2 separate regions of the Homo sapiens genome follow, and region 2 is linked to region 1. The links come from fine-mapping of genetic effects on gene expression. Tissue or cell type: whole blood. Region 1 holds a variant in brackets; the other region holds the start of a gene. All regions are shown on one strand. Distances are between the middles of the regions. Region 1 has its middle 26 kb from the start of CHKA-DT. Region 2 holds the start of NDUFS8 (NADH:ubiquinone oxidoreductase core subunit S8).

Region 1 (2,794 bases):
TACAGGTGTGAGCCACTGCGCCCGGCCCAGAGTGACTCTTCTATACACAAAACTCTAATTTCCTCCTCTTGCTAGTCAAACCATGTTTTTCTTCTGCGGTAAGCGGCAAGCTGGGGAGGCTGAGCTAGGTGTGGTGGCACATGACTGTCATCCAAGTGGACCAGAGTTGACTCAGGCACCCACTTGGCCTGGGGCAAGGTTGGGGGGCACCTGCCCTGCCTCACTTGTTCCCAAACCTCAGATTTGTAACTTGTAAAGCAGAGGGAGTGAAAGCGCTCTGGGTTTGTTGAGGATTCAGCAGGAGAGTGCCCATCGTGCCCTTCACATGGGTCTGGCACCCAAGTCAGTTGGTACCCGTGTCCTGCCTCAACAGTCTGTGGGTGCACCCCAGACACCTCATGCGCCCTGCTCTGCCCCTAACCTCTGCCCTCCTCAGCTGACACCTGCTCAAACTGCCTTCATTACAACCTTCTCCAGCTCAGCTGCGTACTCAGACGATCCTGGATCCCGGTTCTATTTTCCCCTGGCTGATGCCCCTCTGTCAGTCAGGCCGCCTCTGTTTACCCGAAACCTCCGCTCCACCCCCGGGCCTCTCCTCCTTCCAAGGCAGTCTCTCTGCAGTCAGCTGCTCCCCTGACAGCCTTCCCTATTTGAGTGCCGAATAACGGCTGGTCACTCAAAAGGCACAGGGGATATGGGGGTGATTGAAACCCACTCCTTTCCCTCCAGGGAAACACACACGAACATCAGTAAAATGTGGTAATTGCCAGGATGCATGTGTGGAAGAAGCGTGGCAGGAGGACCAAGGAGAGTGCCCCCTGTTTCTGCTGGGGAACCAAGCAAAGCAGGCTTCATGGAGGAGGTAAAATTAAGAAGGGTCCTGAGAGATGAATAGGAGTTCATAAGCCCAAAGGGCAGAGGCGGTGGACACCTGCAAAGTCCTGGAGACATGGAAGGACAGGGTGTCTTATGGAAAGGAGGGTGAGAAGTTCAGCGTGGCCAGTCCAGAAAGTTTAAAAGGGGATGATAGCTGGCCGGACGTGGTGGCTCATGCCTATAATCCCAGCACTTTGGGAGGCTGAGGCGGGTAGGAGATCGAGACCATCCTG[G/T]CTAACATGGTGAAACCCTGTCTCTACTAAAAATACAAAAAATTTGCCAGGCGTGGTGGCGGCCGCCTGTAGTCCCAGCTCCTCAGGAGGCTGAGGCAAGAGAATGGTGTGAACCCGGCAGGCGGAGCTTACAGTGAGCCCAGATCGTGTACTCCAGCCTGGGCGACAAAGCGAGACTCCACCTCAAAAAACAAAAAAAAGGGATGATAGCTGAGGACCATTGACCTTAGGAGATGGGGGCATCTGCCTCTAGGTGAGGGCCCTGATCAGCACCCTAGGGGCACATTCTGTCTTCACCACCTCCTGATTTTGCAGCGTCTCCTATCTGAGCCTTAGTTTCTGCTCTGTAAAATGGAGATGATAATAGTACCCAACTCACTAAGGATGAAATAAAACAGCAAAAGATGCGTGAGCACCACGTCGGGTGCGTGGTAAGCATTCGGTAACTGTTAGCAGCTTTTGTTATTTCCTGGAATCTAATAGCAAAGCCTGTACTTTTCTACTGGCTTCAACTAATCAGCCCCAGCCCCAGCCCAGCCCTCCAACTTCCTCCTGGCCCCCAGCCCCAAGTGTGGCCCAACCATTCCAGGGCTGGGTGTCTTCCCAGAGCAGAGAGATCCAGGCCTCCCACTGTACAGAGAGGCAGGGACAGTGACTTGCTTGGGGACACACAGTGAGCAGGAGCAGGGGTAGCCCGGGCTTGAACCCAGGGCAGTAGCTGCCCTTCCCTGACTGTTGGCTGTGGCAGGCAGTGCCCCGGAAGGGCTGCTCTGGGCTTTGAGCCAGCAGCAGCCCAGCCAGCAAGGAGGTGGCCGCTATTGACAGATGATAACACGTGTTTGTTTAGCTAGAGCCACTCACCAAAGGGGCGTTCAACTCCCTGCAGCAGGGAGCTGAGCTTGAGGCCAGAGTCTTTCTGCCCTTCCTCACTGACACCCACAAGGGCTGCTCTGGCCTTAGAGATCGCCTGGCTGGAAACTCACAACTGTGTGTCTCCTGGATGTTTGGGAACATGAAAATCCAACAAGGTTCCACATCGCTGCTCCTGGGCGGAGTAGCCCGAGGCTCCAAGTGGGACAGCAGTCCCCAGTGTCCCCCAGCCTACCAGCTCTACCACATGGGGTGCTCCAGGCTGGGGACCCCTGGGAGGCCCTGAGGAGTGGTGGCTTGAAGAAGTGGGGGTGCTGCTGGTCGGTGGTCTCAGCGCTCCCCTGGGTTATGAAGGTCTTTGCACTTGCTTCTCCCTCTGCCTGGGACCCCCTCTTTGCCCCACCCGCTCAGGTCTCTTTGTAGATGTCACCTCCCAAATCTTCCCTCACCCCTCACTGCCATCCCGGGGCTTCCCTCCCCTTAGCCCTGAGCCCTCCAGCCACATGGAGTCCTTGGAGCCAATGTCAGGCTGATGGGGAAGGAGCTTCTTCTCTGGGAAAGCAGCCCCCAGAGACTCCAGCCTCCATAATGCGGCAGGATTCAGGTCACCCTGAAGTCAAAACCTCAGGTTGCCAGCCGCTGTCAGAGCCCCTGGGCCAGTCCAGACCCCTCCCACCTGCGGAAGCATGGAGCCCAGGAGGCCATGTTGGGCAAACAGGCTGTGCCCAGACAGTGCCCCAAGACCAACTCATCACACCCAGTGAGTCCTGGCAGAGAAGGAGCCAGAAGCCGGGGACAGAGCTTTCTCTGGGTTG
Region 2 (2,794 bases), 120 kb after region 1:
GTGCAGCCTGGGCCAGGGCCCGCAGCAGCATAGGCGTGGTCAGGCAGCGCATCTGGTGGCATAAAAAGGGATGGAGGGTGGGGTGTGCCCAAGAACCATCCTCTTCTGAGACTGGCACCGCAAGGATCCCAAGTCTCCACTGACATGTGTCACTTTGCCCTCTACTCGCACCCCATTGCTGTCAGAGGCACAGATGGCTTTCCTGTTCCCAGCGCCTCCCAGCTTTCCATCTGATTCAGCTTGGCTGAGCTACAATTCAGTTTCTGTGGACCCCAAGTTCTGCCTCACCTAAGAAACCTTTTAAATCCATCCTTCCTTTCTCCCTCCCAGAGATCCTGTTTCCCACCTTTCTGCTCCTCCCTTCATCCTCCCCAAATCTAACCAAAAACAACATTACCAGCCCCCGCCAGCATGCACTGAGAGCGAACTTTGTTAGCTCTCCTCCCCCAGGAACCGTGCCCAGGGGTGGAAAGCGCTGCCATCCTATCCTTACAAGGACTCCACGAGGGAGGCACAAATAAGGCGCTGGGACTCAGTTTGTTGAGTGACTCGCTAGGGCTGGGTGTGGTGGCTCACGCCTGTAATCCCAGCACTTTGGGAGGCTGAGGCAGGTGGATCACCTGAGGTCAGGAGTTTGAGACCAGCCTGGCTAACATGGTGGAACCCCGTCCCTACCAAAAAATACAGAAATTAGCCAGGTGTGGTGGTGGGCACTTATAATCCCAGCTACTCGGGAGGTTGAGGTAGGAGAATCGCTTGAACCCAGGAGGCAGAAGTTGCAGTGAGCCCAGACTGCACCACTGCCCTCCAACCTGGGCGACAGAGTGAGACCTTGTCTCAAAAAAAAGATAAAAAAGTGACTTGTCGGAAGTCACACGATAAGGAGGTGGGCCGAGGATCGGAACCCAGCCCTGCCCTGCTGGAAACTCTTCAAGGCCTGAACAGTCCTCGGTACCACATTCCTTTCCCCAGCTTCAAGGCCCTCCTGGAACTGTCCCCCAGCCTGCCGCGTGACCTTGGGCAGATGATGTGACCTGACCTCCGTCTTCTCACCTATGAAGTGGGTTGGGGGCGGTTGGTCTTGGGAATTAGGGGAGCCCGTACATGCCAAGGGCACCCCAGAGCCCGGCACTTAGCCGGCGCTCATAAGAGCTCATCCCACGACCTGTGAACCCCCTAACAGGCCCACTCCTTTGGATCACTGACTGCAGTTCCAGGGACCCAACCCAGCACCTTCCCCACCTTCCCAGTGATCTCCGACCCTAACTAGGCCGGTGGCGCAGAGCGGGCGGCGCATGCGCCCTGAGAGCCGGCTCCCCGCTGCACCTGAAGGACACGGAGGCCGCGGATCCTGAGTGAGCCGAGGGGAAGCCCAGGCGCAGAGCTGGCGGCGCCAACGGGGACACCACACTCGCCCCCGACGCCACGCTGCCCAAGCCCGACTTTCACGGCCAAAACGTGAACACCCACCTTGAAGCGCCGCCGCTACTTGCCTTGCCAAGCAGGCCAGTCAATCGGGAGGCGGAGGCTACACTGTAGGACGCTGCCATTGGGCCAGCGGGTTCCCCCTTTTCTGTATTGATGCTTCATGGTGTGGTCTGATTGGCCAGCAAGGCTGCTGAAAGAGGCGGGATTCAGAAATATCTTTCTTTTGATTGGCTAGGAGAGACCGGCGCTTGAAGTTTGTAGGGGGCCGCCATGTTGGTTTGGGGAGGCCAATAAGTGAAGACCTCCGAGCCGCTGGAGGCGGGACATCCGGGGCGTGGTTTAGAAAGAGTGCTTTCGCCGTGGGTGCAGAGGGTGGGCCCGCCGGGTTGGGTGGGGGGCGTGTGATGACGGTAATGGCGACGAGATGCTCAACTCACGCGGCCTCTTTTAATCCTCACAGCAGCTCTGCGTGGAGAAACTACAGTAACGTGTTACCACGTTAAGGCGGGAAGCTGAGGCATGGGAGTATTTAGTAACGTTCCCGGGCCGTAGAGCTGCGGTGTGCGGCCGCCTGATCCACCTGATCTGTATGACTCCCGTACTCAACCAGCCTATGTTTCCTACCAGCGAATTTTTTTTTTTTTTTTTTTTTTTTTCTTTTTTTGAGACAATCTGGCTCTGTGGCTCAGGCTGGAATGCAGTGGTGCGATCTCGGCTCACTGCAGCCTCGACCTCCCAGGCTCGGGTGATCCTCACTTCTCAGCCTCCCGAGCAGCTGGAACCACAGTCGCCTGCCACCACCAGGCTCGGCTAATTTTTGTATTTTTTGTAGAGACGGGGTCTCGCCATGTTGCCCAGGCTGGTCTGGAACTCCTGGACTCAGGCGATCCTCCTGCCTCGGCCTGCCAAAGTGCTGGGATTACAGGCGTGAGCCACCACGCCGGGCCTTTCCCCGGGAATGCTGTGGTAGAGGGACCCGCAGAGGCCCCGAGGCTGCCTGCATGTGTGTGTTGGGAGGATCTGCGCTGAGGGTAGGTAGGAGTTGGGCAGGCCAGGACAGGAAGGAGGCAGAGGGCATGTCCCATGCCCGTGCAGAGGGAGGACACGCATGGTAGACCAGGACGAGGACAAGGGCAGGCTCAGTGTGTGCAAAGGGGACAGTGGTTTGGGATTTGCATGCAGATGCCCGAGCCTCCAAAGGACCTGTGGGCCACAGGGAGACCCTGGGGGAGTTCAAGCTGAGGAGTGGAGAGGGCTTTGGGCTGGTCAGCAGGTGCTCAGAGGAGAGGGGCTGGCCCTAGAGAGAAGGGAGGTCTTGGGATGGTGGCCCACACCTGACCCTGGCCCTTCATCAGGTGATTCCTGC

Evidence for each region. PIP is the estimated chance that this variant, and not a neighbour inherited with it, causes the effect.
Region 2: it holds the start of NDUFS8, and the variant in region 1 is the best candidate, but not a certain one, in a credible set for the expression of NDUFS8 in whole blood (INTERVAL, PIP 0.67).

Annotation. Positions count from the first base shown.
Region 1 is chr11:68,146,363-68,149,156 of GRCh38, reverse strand. No RefSeq gene overlaps it. Among named protein-coding and RNA genes, the nearest start is that of CHKA-DT, 26 kb to the right of the region's middle. The variant G/T (reference allele first, on the strand shown) is at 1,110.
Region 2 is chr11:68,029,410-68,032,203 of GRCh38, reverse strand. It overlaps NDUFS8 (NADH:ubiquinone oxidoreductase core subunit S8), which reads right to left and starts at 1,523. Exons shown (of 7, transcript NM_002496.4): 1 at 1,471-1,523; 2 at 1-52. The coding sequence starts at 52. GLTC1 (glycolysis associated regulator of LDHA post-transcriptional modification 1) reads left to right here and starts at 1,770. Exons shown (of 4, transcript NR_197583.1): 1 at 1,770-1,911; 2 at 2,784-2,794. RefSeq lists enhancers at 1,317-1,496, 1,488-1,782.